4 separate regions of the Homo sapiens genome follow, and regions 1, 3 and 4 are each linked to region 2. The links come from fine-mapping of genetic effects on gene expression. A gene starts in region 2. Each other region holds a variant in brackets. All regions are shown on one strand. Distances are between the middles of the regions. Region 1 overlaps PXYLP1 (2-phosphoxylose phosphatase 1). Region 2 holds the start of PXYLP1 (2-phosphoxylose phosphatase 1). Region 3 overlaps PXYLP1 (2-phosphoxylose phosphatase 1). Region 4 overlaps PXYLP1 (2-phosphoxylose phosphatase 1).

Evidence for each region. PIP is the estimated chance that this variant, and not a neighbour inherited with it, causes the effect. A credible set is the group of variants that fine-mapping cannot tell apart.
Region 1: its variant is the best candidate, but not a certain one, in a credible set for the expression of PXYLP1 in thyroid (GTEx, PIP 0.73).
Region 3: its variant is the best candidate, but not a certain one, in a credible set for the expression of PXYLP1 in tibial artery (GTEx, PIP 0.89).
Region 4: its variant is the best candidate, but not a certain one, in a credible set for the expression of PXYLP1 in monocytes (CEDAR, PIP 0.90).

What each region holds. Positions count from the first base shown.
Region 1 is chr3:141,282,673-141,287,700 of GRCh38, reverse strand. It overlaps PXYLP1 (2-phosphoxylose phosphatase 1), which reads right to left. Exons shown (of 6, transcript NM_001037172.3): 5 at 248-387. Among named protein-coding and RNA genes, the nearest start is that of PXYLP1, 53 kb to the right of the region's middle. The variant G/A (reference allele first, on the strand shown) is at 2,458.
Region 2 is chr3:141,228,720-141,233,747 of GRCh38, reverse strand. It overlaps PXYLP1 (2-phosphoxylose phosphatase 1), which reads right to left and starts at 1,923. Exons shown (of 6, transcript NM_001037172.3): 1 at 1,837-1,923. RefSeq lists a silencer at 1,805-2,184.
Region 3 is chr3:141,266,793-141,271,816 of GRCh38, reverse strand. The region is part of intron 2 of PXYLP1 (2-phosphoxylose phosphatase 1); the gene reads right to left. Among named protein-coding and RNA genes, the nearest start is that of PXYLP1, 37 kb to the right of the region's middle. The variant C/T (reference allele first, on the strand shown) is at 2,131.
Region 4 is chr3:141,272,917-141,277,944 of GRCh38, reverse strand. All of the region lies in intron 2 of PXYLP1 (2-phosphoxylose phosphatase 1), which reads right to left. Among named protein-coding and RNA genes, the nearest start is that of PXYLP1, 44 kb to the right of the region's middle. RefSeq lists an enhancer at 3,950-4,119. The variant A/TA (reference allele first, on the strand shown) is at 2,149.

The DNA of each region.
Region 1 (5,028 bases), 54 kb before region 2:
TTTTTACTTGTCTTTCCTAAATTATTTTCATGAACACGTATTGTTTTTGTAAGAAGGAGAAAGGTTCTATTTAGTTTTGAGAACTCTGATGTTTATTTAGAGGCCCTGGTGACCGAGCTCCTTGCAGAGCCAGTCCTTGCTTACCCCCTCTGAGCTGCACAGCACCCCGCCCAGGAGAACTGCTCGGAAGGTATGCAAGCAGAAGAGCGGGTGGGGGAACCCCTGAGCGCATGGGGGTCACACATACCTGTCTGTGTGAGCTCTCCCATCTCACACAATGGGTGATTTGGGTAAAGAGGCAAGGAGTTCAAGGGGCTTTCGAAAGAGGCTCCGGATCCTTTTGACATGTGACTAATGAAAGCTTCCAGTTTTGGGTGATACGGTTTCCTAGAGAGATGATAGAGAGAGTTAGAGGTCAGAGTGCTCCACAAGAATCCAAACAGTTTCCAGCTTCAGCGAGCCAAATCCCACGTGTATCGCAGCCTTTTGCACCCACAGTAACAGGTACCGGCTCAATCACTTTTCAGTTCCAATTTCATTATTTCTCGACCACTGACACTGACACATGAAATCCCCTCTGTGAGGTTGGCCAGAGTTCCTAACCTCTGCTGAACTCAGTACTGTGGGATTCAGCTTCGCCGTCTATCTTCCGGCTCCCCAACCTGTGCTGCCTTCCGGGCTCGCTCTCCGGGAGGCCGCCAACACCCACCCAGCAGTCACGCCTAGGCTGGGCATCGTCCCACTCTCTCCATTCCCTGCCCCTGCACATGCTGTCTGCTCCCCATGTCTTGCAGATTCTTTCTCCTGGTGCTTCTCCATCCCCTTCTCCTTCATCCTCACAGCTACTACCTAGGTTCTGGCCTCAGGCAGCTTTTGTCTGGCTGGCAATGGGCTCTTTATTGGTCTTCTTGCTGATTAAGCATGCCCCTCTAATAATCTTGCCTTCTCCACCACCAGAAGGATTGATTTAAAAGGTAACTCTGACCAGTCACTGCCCTTCCCTATCACCACCTTCTGGAAGGGGCCACACACAGCCTGTCCCTCTATTCTGGCCTCGCCCTGGTACTCACTGGCCCTCTCTACCCTAATACTGTGCTCTGGCCACGCCAAGCCAAAGGCCTTCTTTCCTCCAACACACAACGCACCTCATTCTTCAACACTTCCACCACTTCCCACGAGCTATCCCTTCCTCCTAGAAAATCTACCCTATCCTTTATCAAGGTCACCCATAATCCTTAATTTTTCTGACCTCTGAAAAATCCCCCTTTAGGAAAATTGTTAACTGAATAAGATAACCAGGATCTCTATACCTCTTTACAATCCACTCCACGTTTTGGACATACAACCTCTCATTTAATATAGGGTAATAATAAATGTCAAAAAAAGTTTATATATGAGATCTGAGAGTATCTATATTTCTGCCACAAAGTATATGTGGTAAATCTTTCTAGTCACTAATATACAATTACCCTGAATAATGAAATGACCTATGAATATAAACATCTTTTCTTTGAATAATGAAGTAGCCTATGAATGTATATACATTTTCCAGCTGAAGAGAAGTGGACAGATAGAGTAGTTCATGCCTAAACTCTATAAGAATCAGCATGAAAAGAAGCAAAGATAAACTGTTCTAATGGCAAACCCCTGCTGTCTGAAGGCCCAGTTAACTTTGAAAGTGCTTTAAAAATGGCTGCCAAAATGGGTTTATTATCTATCAACAACATAAAGCTAAAAAAAAAATCCATCTTTTAAAAATACGTTTTTAAATTAGAGAATACTAATCCAGACATGTAATATAGTCTAATAAATCACCCTGGATAGCTAAAGGGAGTTATGCCTTTCCACAAAAACAGGGTACGTTATTTTGCCTGAGGCTAAAGCACATAAATGTTTGCAAACTGGGAAATAAAATGTCCAGACTGACAATGAGGCTGCCAAGAGTAATCCACATAAACAAAGGCTATCCATCAACAGGAGTCAAATGTTCTGCACCAGGCCATTATTTCAGGTTGGAGCTTTTTTTGAGGATCTGAGAAAGCTTTGCTGCCAATTTTAGAAATGGAATTTCATGACTGGAAGTGTTTGCTGAGGTGACCCAGGTTTTCAGGGCATCTGACTGCTTAATGATATCTAACTGCATTCATTCCAATGTTTTTTATTTTTGTTTTTTTTTGTTGTTGTTGTTGTGTTGTTTGTTTTTGGCATGCAAAGATGAAGATTTGTGGAAGAAAAACTTCATTTAAAGAATAGCTAACAGGCCGGGCATGGTGGCTCATGCCTGTAATCCCAGCATTTTGGGAGGCCGAGGTGGGAGGACTGCTTGGGGCCAGGAGTTTGAGACTGGCCAACATAGTGAGACCATGTCTCTACAAAAAATACAAAAACTAGCCAGGCATGGTGGCGCAGGCCTATAGTCTCAGCCACTCAGGAGGCTAAAGCAGGAGGATCACATGA[G/A]TCCAGGAGGTCGAGGCTGCAGTGAGCTGTGATTGTACTACTGTACTCTAGCCTGGGTGACAAAGAGATACCCTGTCTCAAAAAAAAAAAAAAAAAAAAGAAAAAGAAAAAGAAAAAAAACATTTGACAACAAATGGCTGTATCTTTTTAGTGGAAAGCAGACCAGGTAACTCGAGTCCTGGACCTGGATCTGACTACCCAGGCCTTGTCTGCCTGGTCCACTGCTCCATCCCTGGAGCCCAGAGGGTGCTTAGCACATAGCAGATGCTCTAAAAATATATGTGAGTGAATTCAACTGTGAAGTGTCCCATCCTTGGATGTTTCATGAAAATAGCAAGCCTTCCATAATCTGTAGAAATGAATACGATAAGTTCCCATACGGTTTGTTAAAATATTCAGATTTTGATGAAAATATAGTCGGCCCTCCATCTCTTCAGATTCTGCATTGGAAGATTCAACTGTGGATCCAAAAATACTTGGAAAAAACCCAATAAGAAATAACAATACAACAATAAAAATAATACAAATAACAACTATTTACACAGCATTTACATTGTGTTTGGCGTTATAAGTAATCTAGAGATGATGTAAAGTACATGGGAGAATGTGCGCAGGTTCTGTGTAAATACAACACCATTTTACATAAGGGACTTGAGCATCTCAGATTCTGGTATCCAAGGAGGATCCTGGAACCAATCCTCTATGGATGACTGTATTAAAACTAAAGGCTAGTGTGGATGAGACTAGTGTACTAGTCGTACACTAAAATCTATTCTCTTCTTAAGAACTTGGTTAGATCCTATTTCTGAGGTCCTGAAATGAGGTAAAGCCGCATTCGCCAACAGAACGGAAAGATGTATGCCACTTCTGGGTTCAGGCTTTCTGATCATGTGTATGCCCGGTTCACATTATCTTCCTTCCTTCCAGCCATTATTTAGGCATGGCAGCAACCAGGGTTCAACCATGTAGCCATCCCCAGGGGATGGTAGAAACAACAACCTGGAAGAAACCTGGGGCCCTGAATGACCAGGTGGAGCTGACTAGCACAATCTGGAACACACATTTCAGACCTTCACATGAGGAAGAGCTAAACTTCCTTGTTATTTAAGGTAATGCATTCATGAGTCCCTGTGCTACAAAATAAACTTACAAAATAGGTGTACCCTGACTAATGCAGACATAATTATATCCATGAAAATAAATTTTTCTTTAGGAAAAACTCATATTATTGTGGGCTCATTGAAAATCTGCTTTCATAATGAAAACTGAAATAATCAAAAGTGTTACTATCTTAAGCCTTCAAGTCATTCACTTTGGAGTCCTTATCTTCACTTTTATATGCATTATTCACATCTATTTATGCCACAAAGTTTGAGGCTGAACCCCAAGGCTAATCCACACACCCATGAGAACATTTATTGTTTATTTAAAATCTCAGCAATGACTGAGTTCTGCACAGAATGTTAAGGCAAGCAGAAGAGGCAGACGACCAGTGACACTGTTACCAGAAAACACAATCCAAAAGAGCATACATAGCTGGAAACTGGAATCACATTAGATTTTTAAAGTTCATGCCAATTAAAGAATTTATCATCTTACATATTAATAACATGAGATTATGAAAAGATAAGCCCAGTGTACTTTTCTTTGTTTTTAGCTTTCTGGACCTTTTGGTCTTACTTGATGTAATGCATTGCCCTGCTTTCCTTAGCTCTCATAACATTGCTCTCCTGACTTTTCCCCATTTGCAACATCCCTGGCCCCTTTTGAAATCCTTTTTCTCTCTGAGTACCACATGCTGGTGCTTCCCAGGACTCTGGTTTTGGCCCATCCCTCACTCCTCAGGTTCTGTCTGTAATATAAGCCCACAGCTTCAAATGCCATCAACATGCTGAAGATTCTCAACTAAACCTCTTTTTCCCAGCAAGCCAGTGCCCCTGAGCTGCAAAATTATACAGACTAGGCCAGGCAGGGTGGCTCACACCTGTAATCCCAGCACTTTGGGAGGCTGAGGTGGGCTGATCATGAGGTCAAGAGATCAAGACCATCCTGGCCAACATGGTGAAACCCCATCTCTACTAAAAAATAAAAAAAAAAAAAAATACAAAAATTAGCTGGGCATGGTGGCGCGTGCCTGTAGTCCCAGCTACTCGGGAGGCTGAGGCAGGAGAATCGCTTGAACCTGGGAGGCAGAGGTTGCAACGAGCCAAGTTCATGCCATTGCACTCCAGCCTAGTGACAGAGCGAGACTCTGTCTCAAAAAAAAAAAATTATACAGCCTATTACTGACTAGAAACTGTCTCTTGAATGTTTCATGATAGCTCAAATGTAGCACCAATGCCTGTACTAACTTCCCCCCATACCTCCCTTCTGTGTTCTCTAATTCCAGGGAGGGGTACCACCACCAGCCAGACACCCAGTCAGAAACCTGGGCCCCATCGGGCCTGCCTTTCATACCCCTGTCCAACCTGCCACCAAGTCCTATTGATCCCACCTTGTAACCTTCTCTAAGACCCACTCACTCTCTCCATCTCTGCTGCCACTTCTGAGTTTCAGCTGCCATCATTTATT
Region 2 (5,028 bases):
CACTCGGAGTGCTGTGCTCCAAAGGCCAGGTGGCCCACGCTGTTCCTGGTGCCCAAACGCAGCCTCCCAAGGCATCAGTGAGGATGGGCTGGCCAGGAGCCAATCCCTAACAGAGAAGTTCCCCCTACACATCCTTTCTCTGAGATAAGCAATTAATTTAATCCAAGACTTAATGAAAGCCAGGAGAAGGGATGGGGCAGATTCATACACTGGCTTTCAGGCTGTCCCGTGCATCTTCACCTCTCTCCAGGGACCACGAGGGTTTTTTTTTTTTTTTTTTTTTTGACAGGGTTTTGCTCTTATTGCCCAAGCTGGAGTGCAATGGCGCAATCTCAGCTCACTGCAACCTCTGCCTCCCAGGTGCAAGCGATTCTCCTGTCTCAGCCTCCTGAGTAGCTGGGATTACAGGTATGCACCACCACGCCTGGCTAATTTTGTATTTTTAGTAGAGACGGGGTTTTTATGTTGGTCAGGCTAGTCTCGAACTCCCGACCTCTGGTGATCCGCCCGCCTCGGCCTCCCAAAGTGCTGGGATTACAGGCGTGAGCCACCGCGCCCGAGGCCTTTTGATCCATCTGCTATAAATCCCCTTCCCACAGATGTCCCGATTGGGCACCAACACCTCTGAGGAGGGTAAGTTACTGCCAAGCCCGACCGCAGTCGCATCCCGTTTGAAAGGGTGGGCTCCGCACTGCCAGCTTCACACCCACGGGCCTTCTGCAAATATCAACAAACGGCTCCATTTGTGGAGCACTCTCCGATCCCCCATCCACCCCCCTACACTTCCCCATTCACAGCTCGATCTGATTCCCCATCTCTCCTGATTTTACTTGTTGAATGCTTACAAAGGATCCTTGCCTTTCCACAAAGACACTGGCTAGCCAGGCGGTGATAACCTCACTCACTACAGAGCCCCCTCGCAATCGCTGAACTCACAGCCGAAGCGGGAAAATATGGCTCCACGTCCTGCACCGTGAATCCTTTACCATCCACAGGTACAATTTAAAAGGCAGCTGCGGCTGCAAAGCAGGCAACCTACCCTAAGCAAATCCATTCTCTCTCTCTCTGTGTGTGTGTGTGTGACAAACCCAGCTTATTTAAAAGATCAGGACATAGGCAAGTTCACCAGCAAAAGCAACGTCGTGGGTCTACACCACACGGTCCTAACCTGCGCATCCAGGAATGTTAACCTGCGCTCGGGCGGCCCCGTGGCCAGGCCCGGGACTCCCGGAGGCGTCAGGCTGCAGGTGGCTGCCAAGAGGAGCCAGCCCCGTCTCCGGGAAAGGCCGCGAAGTTGCGGCCGCCTCCTTACCTGGAGACTAGCCGGCTCAGGACCGCCCGGGAAGGGGGATCCCGGGAGCTTGAATCTCGGCTGGAATCCAGCGGCGGGAGTGCGGGGGCCGTGCGGGAGAGGGCTGGAAGGGCGGGGGCGAGGTGGAGGCGGGCTCCGCGGGAGAGTGCGGGGCTGCGGGGGGCGAGGGCTTGGAGACAGAGCCGGGGGTTCGCAGCGGGCGTGAGACGGCGCCAGCTCTGGGAGAAGGGGGCTATGGGGCGGGCGCCGGGGCTGGGACACCGGGCGCACGGGGGGAGTGGCAGGAAAGAGGGCGCAAGTCCTAGGCTCAGGGGCGAGCGCGGGGATAAAGGAGGAGGCTTAGTCGCGGGATTCGGACCCGACGCTTCGAAGCGCCCCCAGCCTTCCCGCCCCTCTCCCACTGGCGAGTTAGGGGGACCCCCTCAGTCTCCCAACCTCGGACCCTGGACGCCCACCCGCCTAGAACCTCTGCGCTGCTCGGCCCCAACGGCAACCGCCCCGGCCCAGGCCCGCGCCGCACTCACCGCCCATGGTCCCAGGCCGGCCCCAGCTCCGTCGCTGCGCGCCCGGCTCGGCGCTCGCCGCCAGCTCCTCCCGGCGCGAGGGGAGGCGAGGGCGGCGCGCACCCGCCACCGGGGAGCTCGCGGGGCCCGGCAGCGCCCCCTGCCGACCCCGCCGCGCCCCGTCTCAGTTCGGCCGGCCCTGCACCAGGAGCCCTGGAGCTCCGCCCCGGAGGCGGTGTTGCGGTGCGGCTGGGCGGGGGCGACCGCGCGGGGTTGCTGAGAGGACACTGCCTCTGGGAGGCCCAGCACAGCCCGGAGAGACTGGTCAGTCTGCAGAGCCCTCGGCGTGCAAAGCCACGGGCACGGACAAGCCGAGCGCGCAGGGACCACGACCACAGACGCGCAGGGCTCTCGCGTGCCTCACAACTCCTGACCTGCGATCAGGGACTGCGCGGAGGCGCGCCAAGGCCCAGGAACACAGCCCTGGCCGGCCCGGGCCCTAGTGTGGGTGCTTTGGGGCCATGTGCCTGCCCTGGCGCCGCTGATGCTATCGCCGGGTGGGCGCGCGCGTCTGGGGTGCGCCTGCTGCCACGTAGACCCAAACTGTCACCCCCCACCCCCCACCCCTTTCGGCCTATCCCACACTCCTCTTCCGGCTCAGAACACATCCGGCCTTGTGTTGCTCTAGTCCTCGCTGCTGCTCCGTCTCCAACGGTCTGCAGAGACCCGGGGAGGTCGTGGCCCCGCGCAGTCGCCCTTCCCACCTGCTCCCGGCCCGCGGCTTCCTTGGAGCCGCTGCTGAAGATCCTCAGAGCACTTGAGGGCTGCCTGTAACGCCCCGTTAGACATCTGATAGGCGAACGGTTGTATTTGGTTTGATCAGTATTTGTGGGTCATTTATTGCAAATGTTAGGTTCCAGCTGGTGGAGATTTCCACCAGATTTCTCTGTGGGAGATGAAACGACCAACAGCGATTATCAGAGAGGTCTTTGCTGTCAGCTCGAGGTCTACAGCAACCCTGTGTGTCCTAGCACAACTAGCCTCAGGCAAAATAGATACGGATTCGAATTTGCTACTATATACCTTTGAGGTGCACCTTTGGGAGGATCTCATCCCTTGACTTCTGCTTTCTCTCCTTGATTGATGGCTCTCAAATCCACACACTTGGCTCAGATATGTTAGCCATATTTCCCCCTACCCTCCGGTTTTTTTCTTAGAACTTTCCTCCTCAAGTTACCACGTCTGGCACTAAATTTTACCTCTTCCAAGCTCCCAACTCCATTTATCCCCGTGGTCTCGCCATTCTCTCAGCCACCTGTCATGCCTTCTTCATCAGGTGCCTTAATGGCTCGTCAGTACCGGACTTTGCTGCCTGTCCGCCTCTGGTATTCCCCCGATGCAGCGCTATCCCGGGCCTTTTTTCTGCCCTGAATACTGACAGCCTCTCCCAATCCATGAGCACAAAATCTTTTCACTGTCCCCTTTGGCATCACCCCCAACTCTCCCACCTGGCCCCCACAGAAGCCCACCGCAGCCCGCCCAACAATGTCTCCTCTGCCCCTTCTGATTGTCCTCTCACGGATTGCAGGCTCTACTGCTTAGCTCACACTGTCACCCTCTTCTCTACATGGGTTAGTCAAGGTGCTTTCTGCTGTAAAAGACAACCCAATTCACACTAACTTAAATCACAAAGGGTTGATCCGCTGTGTACATGAAGAGCCTGTCTGCTTCAGGCCTGGCTTTAGTCCCAGGGTCTCAGGGACTCCCCGTCTCAGTTTTGCTGTCTTCCACATGAACTACGCTTTCATGCGCACATGAGACCCTGGCAGATCCAGGCTCACAGCCTCACAGCTCTAGTTCTAGCAGAAAATCAGCTTCTCTGCCAGCCATTGCAACTAGCCTTGGACCTGGCTTTGTTTGCAGGATTGGGCCACATGTCCATGCTGTGCTCTCAGCCTCTGTGACTCCATGGCAGGTGGGTTCACTCGTGGACACACTATCACCCTCAGCAGGGAGCATGTAGGCACTCTTGGATCCCTTCTCTGTCACAAGGGGACTAAAGGTAACTCAGGGCACCATCTCTAGCCATTTCTCTGCAAAATTTGCCACACCAGCGCTTTGCTTGACAGCGCAGGGCATACTGTGGGGGCAGAGTCTCAGCCTGGAGATAGGACACAGGCCCTTTCTGCTTTCAGCTTCCTCCTTAACCTATCTGAGATCTGTGTCTTTGTACCACCCCCTTCCCTAGGTCCACACTTGGTATAGGGATAGCCTCAGGCCCTCATGGAATCAGGCATCATACACTCCCTAGACTCACATCCTGTTTCTTTACCTCACCTTCCCGATTCCCTGAGGATGTCTATGCTACCTTCCATTCTAGAGGAGGCATCTCCTCCCCCTGTGGACTCTGGGTTCTGAGTGGTACCCACCGAGCCTTAATGGAGAAAGGGGCTATAGGGAAGAAAAAAGAAAAGCTTCCTACAGGGAAAATAGATATGAGGAAGCATCTCAAGACCATTACTCCCACTAAATCTCTTTCCTCCGTGGTTGCTGAAGAGGCAGGATGGCAGCCTGACACAGCTGGGGACCATCTGGCCAGCACCTGGGGAGACTGTGCCAGAGACTGCAGCTGACAGAGGAAAGCAGAGTGGTGAGATAGGCAGGTTTCTTTCTTTCTTTCTTTTTTGTTTACCTTCACAACAGAATGGATGTCATAGGCAGGTTTCTGCTGTGCCTGAATCCCACATACCACTGGATTTTTCAAGTACGTGTTCCAGTAAATACCCCATTTTCCCCCAAGCAAATTAGAATTGGCTTTCTCTGTCACTTGCAACCAAGAGAGTCTTGACTAGTATAAGCCTCTAGCATAGGACCTCACACATTAGTTCCTGTAAAATAGCAACTATCATCACCGTTATTCATATGATAAATGAGCAAGCCATCCTCTTTGGTAACTGTAAACTGTAGAAATGAAAAGTGCATGCAGTATGCTCAATAACTTTTGTCTCCCCTCTTATTCCCAGCCTGCTCCTTTGTCCTTTCCAAATTCACATCTTGACCTCCAAGGAAACCCTCAACATTCATTAAAAGCAGAGCCCACCCATCTTATAAAAATAGTCCCAGACTCACCCAAGTCACGAATATTCCGCTAGGCAGCATTTGCTCCCATGTTACACAAGTGATCCCTTCCTAGACTATAAGCAACTGGGAGCA
Region 3 (5,024 bases), 38 kb before region 2:
GATGAGGACCTGACTCTAGGCAGCTGTGCTAATAAAGGGACCTTTCCAGGAAAGACAGGCTGTCCCATGTGGAAGACACTTCTGCAGTGGGAGTCAGATGGCTTCCAAACCCCTCCCTCCTGCCATCCCCATGCTTGTGTGATTTGGCTGTCAGCCTTCTTCTGATTACACAGATACCTGGCAGATTACAGTTGGGTATCAGGGACCCAGAGTTTCCCGGGAAATGTGAGCATGATGAGGCTAAAGTGTTGGCTCAGCTCTGTCTCCATTGCTCTGGGATCAGCTGCCACACAAGTCACCCCACTGACTACACCAGCAAAGAACCTCTTGGGGCCAAGGTCCAGCTCCACTATCTGTTTACCTTCCTAGCTCCAGGGTCTGCCTTGCCCTTTTTGGGACTTCAACACTGGGCTAGTCACTTCCTTAGGGGACTACAGTCACTTTTTCCTTGGAACTCCACTGACATCTGTCCTCAGTTGCCCCTGCTACCATGGTTCTGAATGCAGGGAGGTAGCCTGGGGCTGGGGGCTGCAAATGAGCTATAGTATTACAAAGATGTGAATTCATGTCCTGGCTCTGTTACCTCCTAGCTGTGTGACCTGGGGCAAGTATCCCTGCCTCTCTGTGCCTCATTTCCTTCATCTGTCAAATGAAGGTGATGATACCTACAGATCAGGGTGGTAATGATGATGTTGAGATACCACCTGTGAATGGATTCTGGTAAGGAATCAAGAAATACTATTTTCAATGTTTAAAAAGTGAGCAGGATATGGTGGCACATGCCTAGAGTTCCAGCTACTCAGGGGACTGAGGCAGGAGGATCGCTTGAGCTCAGGAGTTCGGGGCTGCAGTGAGCCCTGATCACACTACTGCATTCCAGCCTGGGTGACAGAGTGAGACTCCATCTTATAAATGAATGAATGAATGAATGCTATTTTCTACATCCATCCCCTGGATGTGATTATTCCTGTTTCCTGCAGGCTCTTAAAAGGCGCTCCCTTCAACTTGGGATCTGGAAGGGATATCAAACCCCTGCGTCCACCCCTTCACAAAAGCACAACCAGCCAATCTCCCTTCTCCTCTTGGCCACTCCAATTTTAGCAGCTTTTCTGGCTCCCTTAAATACATTCAGCTTATCTGAGATAGCGTCTCCTCATAAGCTAAAACACCCCCAGTCCTGCCACCTAATTTCTCCAATTTCTCCCCGCAAATAAACCAAAAGGTTCTTGAATTCTCTCTCCTTCACTGGTCTGCCAAGGAATAATGACGCGCTCTGTCAGTTCCCACAATTCCCTTAGTGCTCCTCAACCCACTAAATTATCTTAAATGCCCGCCCTGTCTCTAACCTGTACTGAATTTTAAAAGTGCACTGTAACTGTCAAATGAAAACCAGAACCACAACGAAGAGTCCACAGTTGTTATCTGCCTCTCATCGTCTGCTTTTAAAGGCTGGAGTGGGAATCATGTTATACAGGTGAAATGGGAAAAGTCAAGCCCACATTTGTAGACTTTGAGACACTTGGTTTTACATAAATGAGATTGATCAAACAGTTGAATCTGCTCTTGCCATTTTGATCTATCCACTTTGAGCTGCAATACACCAACCTTTCTTGTTTTCCTCATTCTTAATGTTGCTTCATGGTGAACCACATTAGGTAAGAATTTATTAAGTGCTTCTGATACGCCTGGTAGCATTCAGGGAGCCGGAGAACTCCAGCAGAGTTCAGGGCTGGGCACATCCTATCAGCCTGGAGCTCTGCTCCCTGGGCTATTTGCACGCTCTATCTCCTCCCTCCTTGACCCTTTCCTCTGACATTTGCCTCTGGGACCTAAGTCCACCCATTGCTTGGGCATGGGGGCTCCCCCTGTGGCCTGGGCTTGAGCCCCAGTTGCAGCCTCTCAGAGGAGTCAGGAAACCCCACACTCTTCTGGGAGCTGCTGGTAACTGGCCTTACCCTAACAGGGCCATTGGATTAGATGATGCCAACACCAGACTCCAAATCACCACACACTCAAGACAGAAACTAGAAATAAGAGATTTCCAGGACAGGCCTCCAAAAAGAACCATGAAAAGAACCTGTCTCCTTAACCTTTTTGGGTCATGAAGGTTATGACCCTCATCTTTGAGAA[C/T]CTGATGAAAACGATTGATCCTCATCTCTGAAAGACGATGCGAACACAGTCTTGTGAATTGGACTTCTGGGGGTTTACAAGACCCCTGAAACCCCATGGGACAATGCAGAAGTCCACAGGTTCAGGCTAAGAACCCAAAGTACCTGGAAACAGGTTTTCAATTTCAACACTCAAGAAGAGATGAACAGATTTTCTTTTTTCAAAATAAAAAGGGGTCATAAAAAACATGAGTTCATCATAAAATAGTCATTCAACACTAAAGTATAAAAAGAAAAGGAAAATCACCCATAAATCCTACCACCCAGAGAACCCCATAAGGAATATTTTAGTATTTGAGTATATATGTGCCCTGCCAGAGGCTAAACATGTGCTTCTGTCCCTGCTCCGGTGGGAATGGTGACGGATGGTCACTCAGGCCCAAGGACATTGTTCTCTCTCCCCAAGAGGAGCAAATAAGTTTCCTGTGTCTCAAAGGTCTGCAACCCACTGAGGCCACCAAACCAGCAACCTGTCCTTGAGGGTGGGTGGGTTGTCTGCCTTCTGTGTAAAGGCTCAAAAGACATAGCCAGACAGGCGAGGGGCTTTGGGGAGGCCACCTCAAGGAAAGAGAGAATGTGGCCCAGGGTGGGGCCTGCACTCTCAGGCATGTGGACATCCCACAAGAGCTGCCCCACCCTCTGGTAGATACCTAGGGGTGGTGTGGACGGGCAGACCCCTGGCCAGTGGAGTCCAGCCCCTCGGATGACACAGGGAAAAGAGAAAGGCAAAGAGAGGCAAGATGTGATGCTGAAGCTCCAGCCAGATAAATCCTAGAGAGGGGCCATGCATCCCAGCCACCTCCCCATTCTTTCCCACCTGAGCCCACCCCTGAGCTACGGCTCTGAGGCACAGGGTAACATCTGTAGTGTGTGTGACAGCCGCACTGGCAGGAGGGCAGGATGGTAGTGAGGGCAGGATGGTGAGGCAGTCCCAGAGCTCCCTCCCAGGTGCCCGCCCTACTTCACCCTCGTGTACAGGATTCAGATTCTGCCCTTGTCTCCTCTTTTAGATCAGCCTCTTCCTTCTCTCTTGTGAGGTGGGGCTGCTGGTACATAACAGGGCTCTGCCTCTGATCAGCACTCACTTCATTTCAAGGTGGGCTTCCTCCTTTTAATGTCATCAGCATGGGGCCAAAGCCCTGTTGCCAAGACAACAGGGAGTGAGCGGGGTCTGCACTGCGTGGCTTGGCTCAGCAGGCGCACACTCTGCCTGCCAGACTCCAGCTGGCCTCGCGCTCTCCCTGCAGTGGGTACAGCCACATAAATCCTGTGGCTTTCTATTCTGTTCATCTCTTCAGTGGATCTTAGAGATCTCCAGGCACTTTCCTGAATTCACTGAATACTTCTACTAATGCTTTCTATTTTTACTAACTAGCCGTGATAGTATTTGCTCTTGCTGACTCAAGACACACACACACACACACACACACACACACACACACTCTCTCTCTCTCTCTCTCTCTCTCTCTCTCTCTCTCTCCCCCACCCACCCGCATATAAAGGTACCATTTTAAAATTTAATATATTATGCACAACCTTCCAAGTCAATAGAGACAGGTCTATGTGATCATGAGGTAATGGGGTATTTACTGTTGTACACGTTGGTTGCCTTCTCCTTTGTTTCCTATTACAAATGATGCTGCAGTAAACATCTTTAAACAGATATCTCTATCCCCTCATCTAATTATTGATGAGAACTTCTTTAAGATAAGGAACTAAGAAGAAAAAAGGGAAGAAGAGAGAAAGGGAAGGTGGGAGAGAGGGAGAGAGGGAGAGAGACAGAGAGGGACAGAGGGAGGGAGGGAGACAGAGAGGGAGGGAGGGAGGTCATTATCTAGCTCCACCCTGAAAGAAAACTAGGAATGACCCACAGACATAAATGTGTCCATTCTCAGCTTGCAGAAGAACCTGCTACATGACACTCTCACCTTCCCACTCCAATGCATCTACAACATGAGCTTAAGAAATTGTGACAACAGCTTATTTGTCAGATTTAATTTTGTCACTCATCTATGGTGTTTTTTTTTTTTTCACCTGCAGATATTTAACTCTATGTGGCAACTGGACATAAAGCATTCTGAGGAAAAGCAAATTAAAACTCCCAGAAATCAAACAGAAAGTAAAATCTTTAAGAAAAGGACCAAAATTAACAAAAAATACAGAATTTAAAACTTTGGTCACAATGAAGAGATGGCGATATGACAGAACTCTTAGGTTAACAATGTAAACCTTCACTTTCAATTTCTCATACTTTTTGTCTCCAGCTGAACAAAATAAAAGCTCAGGAGGAAGCGCATTGGGGCTTTTAGAATAGAGGACGCAGTACGTTAGACCCTGTGCATTCTAAGGGCTTGCATCCCCAAATCTTTTCCATGAAGCATACTGAGATCTTCACGCATCCCCACATTCAAACATACCACTCTGTACTTTTCTCCACTGAACGTACACAGGACAAAGAACAGAGGACGACCACCTCCCCTGGCTGTGTGGCAGGACGTGGCTCCCTCAGCAGCTGAGCAGCTCACTTCCTGCTACTTTCATCAAGACGTGTGCCTCGGCAGAATCACTATCACCATATACTACAGATCTCAGGGGTCCCTGCAAAGAGTCGAAACCACAAATGCTAATGGCCATCTACAAGAGTGAGCAGGACTGAGGACACAAGGGTCTGAACCACCGAGGAAGGTGTCACAGCACCCTGGCACCTGTCAGGGCTCCTTGCTTGCCTACTCAGAGGCAGTTCTATGTTAATGTACACACTGTTCTATCAAGCATTGTTATTTTCTTTCTTAGCGGATATCAGACTGAAAGCAGCACAGAAAAAGGGAGGGGATATAGGGGATCAGGGCCACAGGA
Region 4 (5,028 bases), 44 kb before region 2:
TGGGTGTCTGACATATCCCATTTATCATCATCTGCTTTATGCTTTGTGGGCCTTCAGAGTCGCTCATCTAACCCATGAGAGCACTTTACAGAAGAAAGCCAAGGACCAAGGCATGTGTGGTGGGTGAAAGCCTGTCTCACGCTTACTCCTTGACTTCAGGCCAGCTTCCCTGCCACTGTCTTCGGCGTGGCATGTGTGGGTCTTGCAATCTGTGTGCTTGTCCATCTACTACCCTCATTCCATTAGTGAGCTGACCCTTCACCACCACGTGTGGTCAGGCTGGACTGTCAATCACAGTGTCCCCACCCCCTGGCAGGGGTGGACATGTGACCAGAGTCAATAAGGGTAGTAATGGGGCAACTGGACTCCCTTTCCTCGAGACAGGTGATATACAGACTCTAGAAGAGGTGCTCTTTTTCTTTCGGATGCTAATCTGTAAGAATGGAAATGTGGGGCTGCCCAGCCATCTATCCCTCATGAACAGCTTCTGTCTCAGTGGTCCCTAATCTCTCCGTGCCTAGGGAATGTCTTTGTAGCATCATAGATCCTCTAGAACTCCCAACACAGTATAGTCATACTTTCAGCATCCGCCCTTTGAGGGAAACACATGAAAATAAGTGTGCTCACAGATCTTTTTAACTTCTAAAAGATTTATTAATCACCATAATATCTACACATGCGCACGAACAATAGCTAAAACAGGGACCAACCACCAGCCTAAATCAATGTAAATTCCCTAATTACTTCTACAAATTCTTCTACATAAATATTTAAAACTTCCCTTTGGCAAACAGATGCCATAAACAAAGATAAAAGGCAACACACTGAGAGAAAAATATTTGCAACTAACCTAACAGACAAATGATTAATATCCAAAGTCCATAAGAGACCCTACACCTGAAAAATCATTAAAGGATATGAACAGGCTAATCGCAGAAAAATAAATACCAATGGCCAATAAACACATGAAGAGATGCTTAAGTTTGTTCATAATTAGATACAGATAAAACAACAGTGTGATACTGTTTTTCATAATTGTTTATTCATAATTAAAGAAATATAAATCAAACAGTGGACTATATTAATAATTTTTCCTCATCAAACTGGAAAATCATGTTTTAATGATAACACTCAATATTGGGAAGGGTGTGAGAAACCTGACGCTTCCAAACATCATGGGGAGGGTGGAAACCGGCACCTCTCGGGAGTGTTTGGCAGTAGCCATCAAAATGGTATATGTGCACTACCCCCGATCTCGTTATTCTACGTCTTGGAATCCATTCTGTATCTATAAAGATAGCGATGCCCACGCACAAAAATGTGTGGCCAAAGAGATTCCCTGCAGTGCTGTTTGTAATAACAAAAAAGGGAAATAACCTAAATATCCATCTCTAGCAGAACAGAACGTTATGTCCCTACTGTGGAATGTTCTATCCCAGTTAAAAAGAAGGGAAAAGAATCAAAGATAAATTAAGTGAAGTGAATACACCAAGTCACTGTATACTGATATAATCCTCTTTGTGTAAAGAAAAAAAACAAACCATAAATGCATAAATATACAGGGATTTGTTTATTACGTAAATGCATAGAAAAAATGTCTAGAAGGTTATCCATCATAACACAGCAGTGGTTTTCCTCTGGGAAAGGATGGAATGGGGTGTGAAAAAGTATTTTTACTTGTTTGTATATTCGCACACACATATACGTACAGTCATGAGTTGCGTAACAATGGGGAGGCACTGAGAGATGGCCCTTAGGCAATTTTGTCATAGTGTAAACATCATAGAGTGCACTTACACAAACCTAGATGGTAGAGCTTTCTACACACCTAGGCTATTTGGTCAGCCTGCCGCTCCTAGGCTACAAACCTGAACTGCATGTTACCGCACTGAATGTTGTAAGCAGTTGTAACACAATGGTAAGTACTTGTGTATCTAAACATATCTCGACTTAGAAAGAATACAGTAAAAATATGGTATTATAATATGGCACCACTGTCATATATGTGTTCTGTCGTTGATGGAAGTCATTATGTGGTACATGACTGCATATGTATTTATAGTAAGCACATATTAATGTATTCTATATGTATAGAAATATATATTTCTGTATTTCTATGCTGTCTAGGTAAGCATTTTTTTTTTTTTT[A/TA]CAGTGAACGTATTTCCCTTCATTACTTGTGTTACCAAAACAACAATCACAGAGATACAGAACTGGTGATTCACCCACCCAACATTAGCCCTTTGGTTGCTCCTAGGGCCACTTTCTTTCCAGTAGTTGGAAGGTGCTAGGATGGCTAACACAGCCCAGGTGTTCAGAGGGAATTCACTACAGGGGGATTAGCACAAGAGCACGGAAATATAGAAAAGTGCTAAGGCAGTCTCTTAGTGACCTGGCCCTTCTGGCTGGCTCAGTCCTTGATTCTGCTCTTTTGTGAAATCTACCAAGTCCTGGCCCCTTGGCCATGCCTGTGGGCACACTCCCTTGGAGTCTGGGCCAGGGACAGAAGCAGCTAAGGAGACAGGATAATATGAGTGACACAGAAATGGAGGGGCACAGGTGAGGACAGTGGGTGTCCTAGAGTGCCCACAGTTTGCTAGTTCATCTATAAGCACCCGGGGTGAGGCCTGTTGTGGCTGCCATTTGGGAACCATGGTGGTTGGGTGCAAATGACCCACCCATGACCCAAGGAAGCAGTGGTTTGAAAACCACAGATAAAGATCAGAATGAGACCTTCTCTCCAGAAAGATTTTATCTGCTGCTTCCTCTGGTATCTGGGCCTGTCAACTGTGTCTACTAGTTCAGAGTGTGAGATCACCCTGTACTATTTGTACCTCCCTGAGTCACCAGGACATAGCATCAGTTCACAAGGGGCCTTCCCAATACCAGGCATTCAAAACAGGTCCTGACACATAGAAGCTGTGAGGAGAAGTCTCCCCAGCTCCATCTTGACCCCAATCCCAACTTGGTTCTCACTGTTCTGAGCTGCTCTGAGCCATCCCACCCCACAGGATGTTTCTCGCCTATGCTCCACCGTTTGCTGGCAACTCTACTCTCACCCTCTGCTCCCGAAATCTGACCAACACTGTAACTGATCCTAGGGTCACCTCCTCCAGGAAGCCCGCCCTGAATCCCCAGTTCCCACATCCTCTTCTATGAGCCTACCCAGTTCCTGCTGCCGTCATGGCTCACAGCATAGTATATGCAAGCAGGGGTGTCCCAGTTTGTCACCCTGCCATCCCAAACATCCAGAGGGCTGGGAGTGTGCGTCTTTCACATTTATATCCCCCGCTGACTGACAGAGGATAGGTCTTCCAAAAATACCTGCTGAACTGGGGCAGACGCTGTGCTCCATGCTTTTGATGAAATATCTCATTGACTCCTCATGTGGAGCACTGAGGGTTGCCGAACCAGTCTGGGGTGAGGGGCATCCAAACAGGCTTCCCAGAGGAGACACCTAGCTGGGCCTGAAAAACTGATGAAGCTGGCTGTGTGGAGGGGAAGAGGAGAGGAGCAGAGGGGAGGCCGTGAAACACAGCCAAACATGGCAGATGGGGGTCAGCAAGCTGGCTCAGGATACGCCTTGGGTCCCGTAAGGCCTGGTCAGGTTGGCCTCACCAGGGTCGATGTGCAGGCCGGGCTCCAGGAGGAAGGCTGGGAAGGGGCCTGGAGGAGCAGACCCCGGGCTGCAGGCCGCCTCTGCCCTGGTGCTGTGCTACTCACCACATCAGCTCTTGAGGCTTGCCCCGATCACCTAGATAAAGGGAGCTGAGGGACAGACCCAGGGGCTGGGGGCAGACACTGCTCCAGGACACTGCTCCTCCCAGCAGGCTTTGCCCAGGCCCCCCGTGCCTCTAGCTGTCCTGTGGAACAATTAGAAACTCTGCTGACCTCAGGCAGATGACAGCAGCTCAGATGTCACAGGGCAAGAGAAAGAGGCTGTGGGGGCATCAGAAAGAATAGTGGGCAGATAAATAGATGGAAGGATAACGAGTTTCATTATGTAGGTGGGAAAACCCATGAATCTAAATGAGTGTCCTGGGGCCACTGTGCCACCAGGACCAACACGAATAACAGGATACGAGATATCTTTTACTGATGATTAACTCTGTACCAACGGGCATGCAATTTCTCTGTGGTGTGATTACCAAGTAGGAGGGCAAATTTCCGTAAGCTACCTTTGGAAATAAGCCTCTCTTTTATGGCGGTGTTCTCTGCTCATCTCATCTACGATCACTTTCATCCTGTCCACACATCTATAACCCTCATGTGTAAAGATGCCGACAAGGTCTCAATTTCAAAGAAATGGCAGAGAACATGACCTCTAAAGCATCTCCTTGGGACCCTCCCTCTCAAAAGCAACCAACAAATTTCTTAGAATCATGAGTAAAACAACCAGATGCTATCCCACGCAGGCTCCCTCCCCACCACCCTTCCCCACCCCATCTCCCGAATGCACAGTGGATGACTCTGTATGTATTACTAGTAAACATTCCCATAGCTATAGCTAGGATGCAAGCCAAACTGATCCTCTCTCTGCTTTTCCCAGCTTTGGATCTCAACCTAGGAAGAGTAACCATCAGCCAGACAGTAGACCTTAGGCAGAGGCAGGTCAAGGGAGTTACCTAAGGTCCTGAAGCCTGTAAGCCCGGACCTGCTCACCCACTAAGCTCGGTATTTATGCATTTGTCCATCTGGCCATCCAACATGTATGGAGCACATGCTGGGGATTCTTCAGAGAATAAAATGGACAAGGTCTCTGCCCTCACGGGGTTTACAATCCAGTTGCGGGGGACAGTCAGACATTAAATAAGAAAAGGTGGGGAGAAAGCACATGGACCATAAGGAGAAAATAGCCTTCTCAGGCACGGGGCCCCCTGCACTCACTGGTTGCTGGTTGGGGGGTGCAGGTATGGAAACGATGCAGTGAAGACATGGATATAAAGGAAATATTGGGAAGTTACCAGATGTGATGGTTAATACTGGGTGTCCACTTGATTGGGTTGAAGAACACAAAGTATTGCTCCTTGG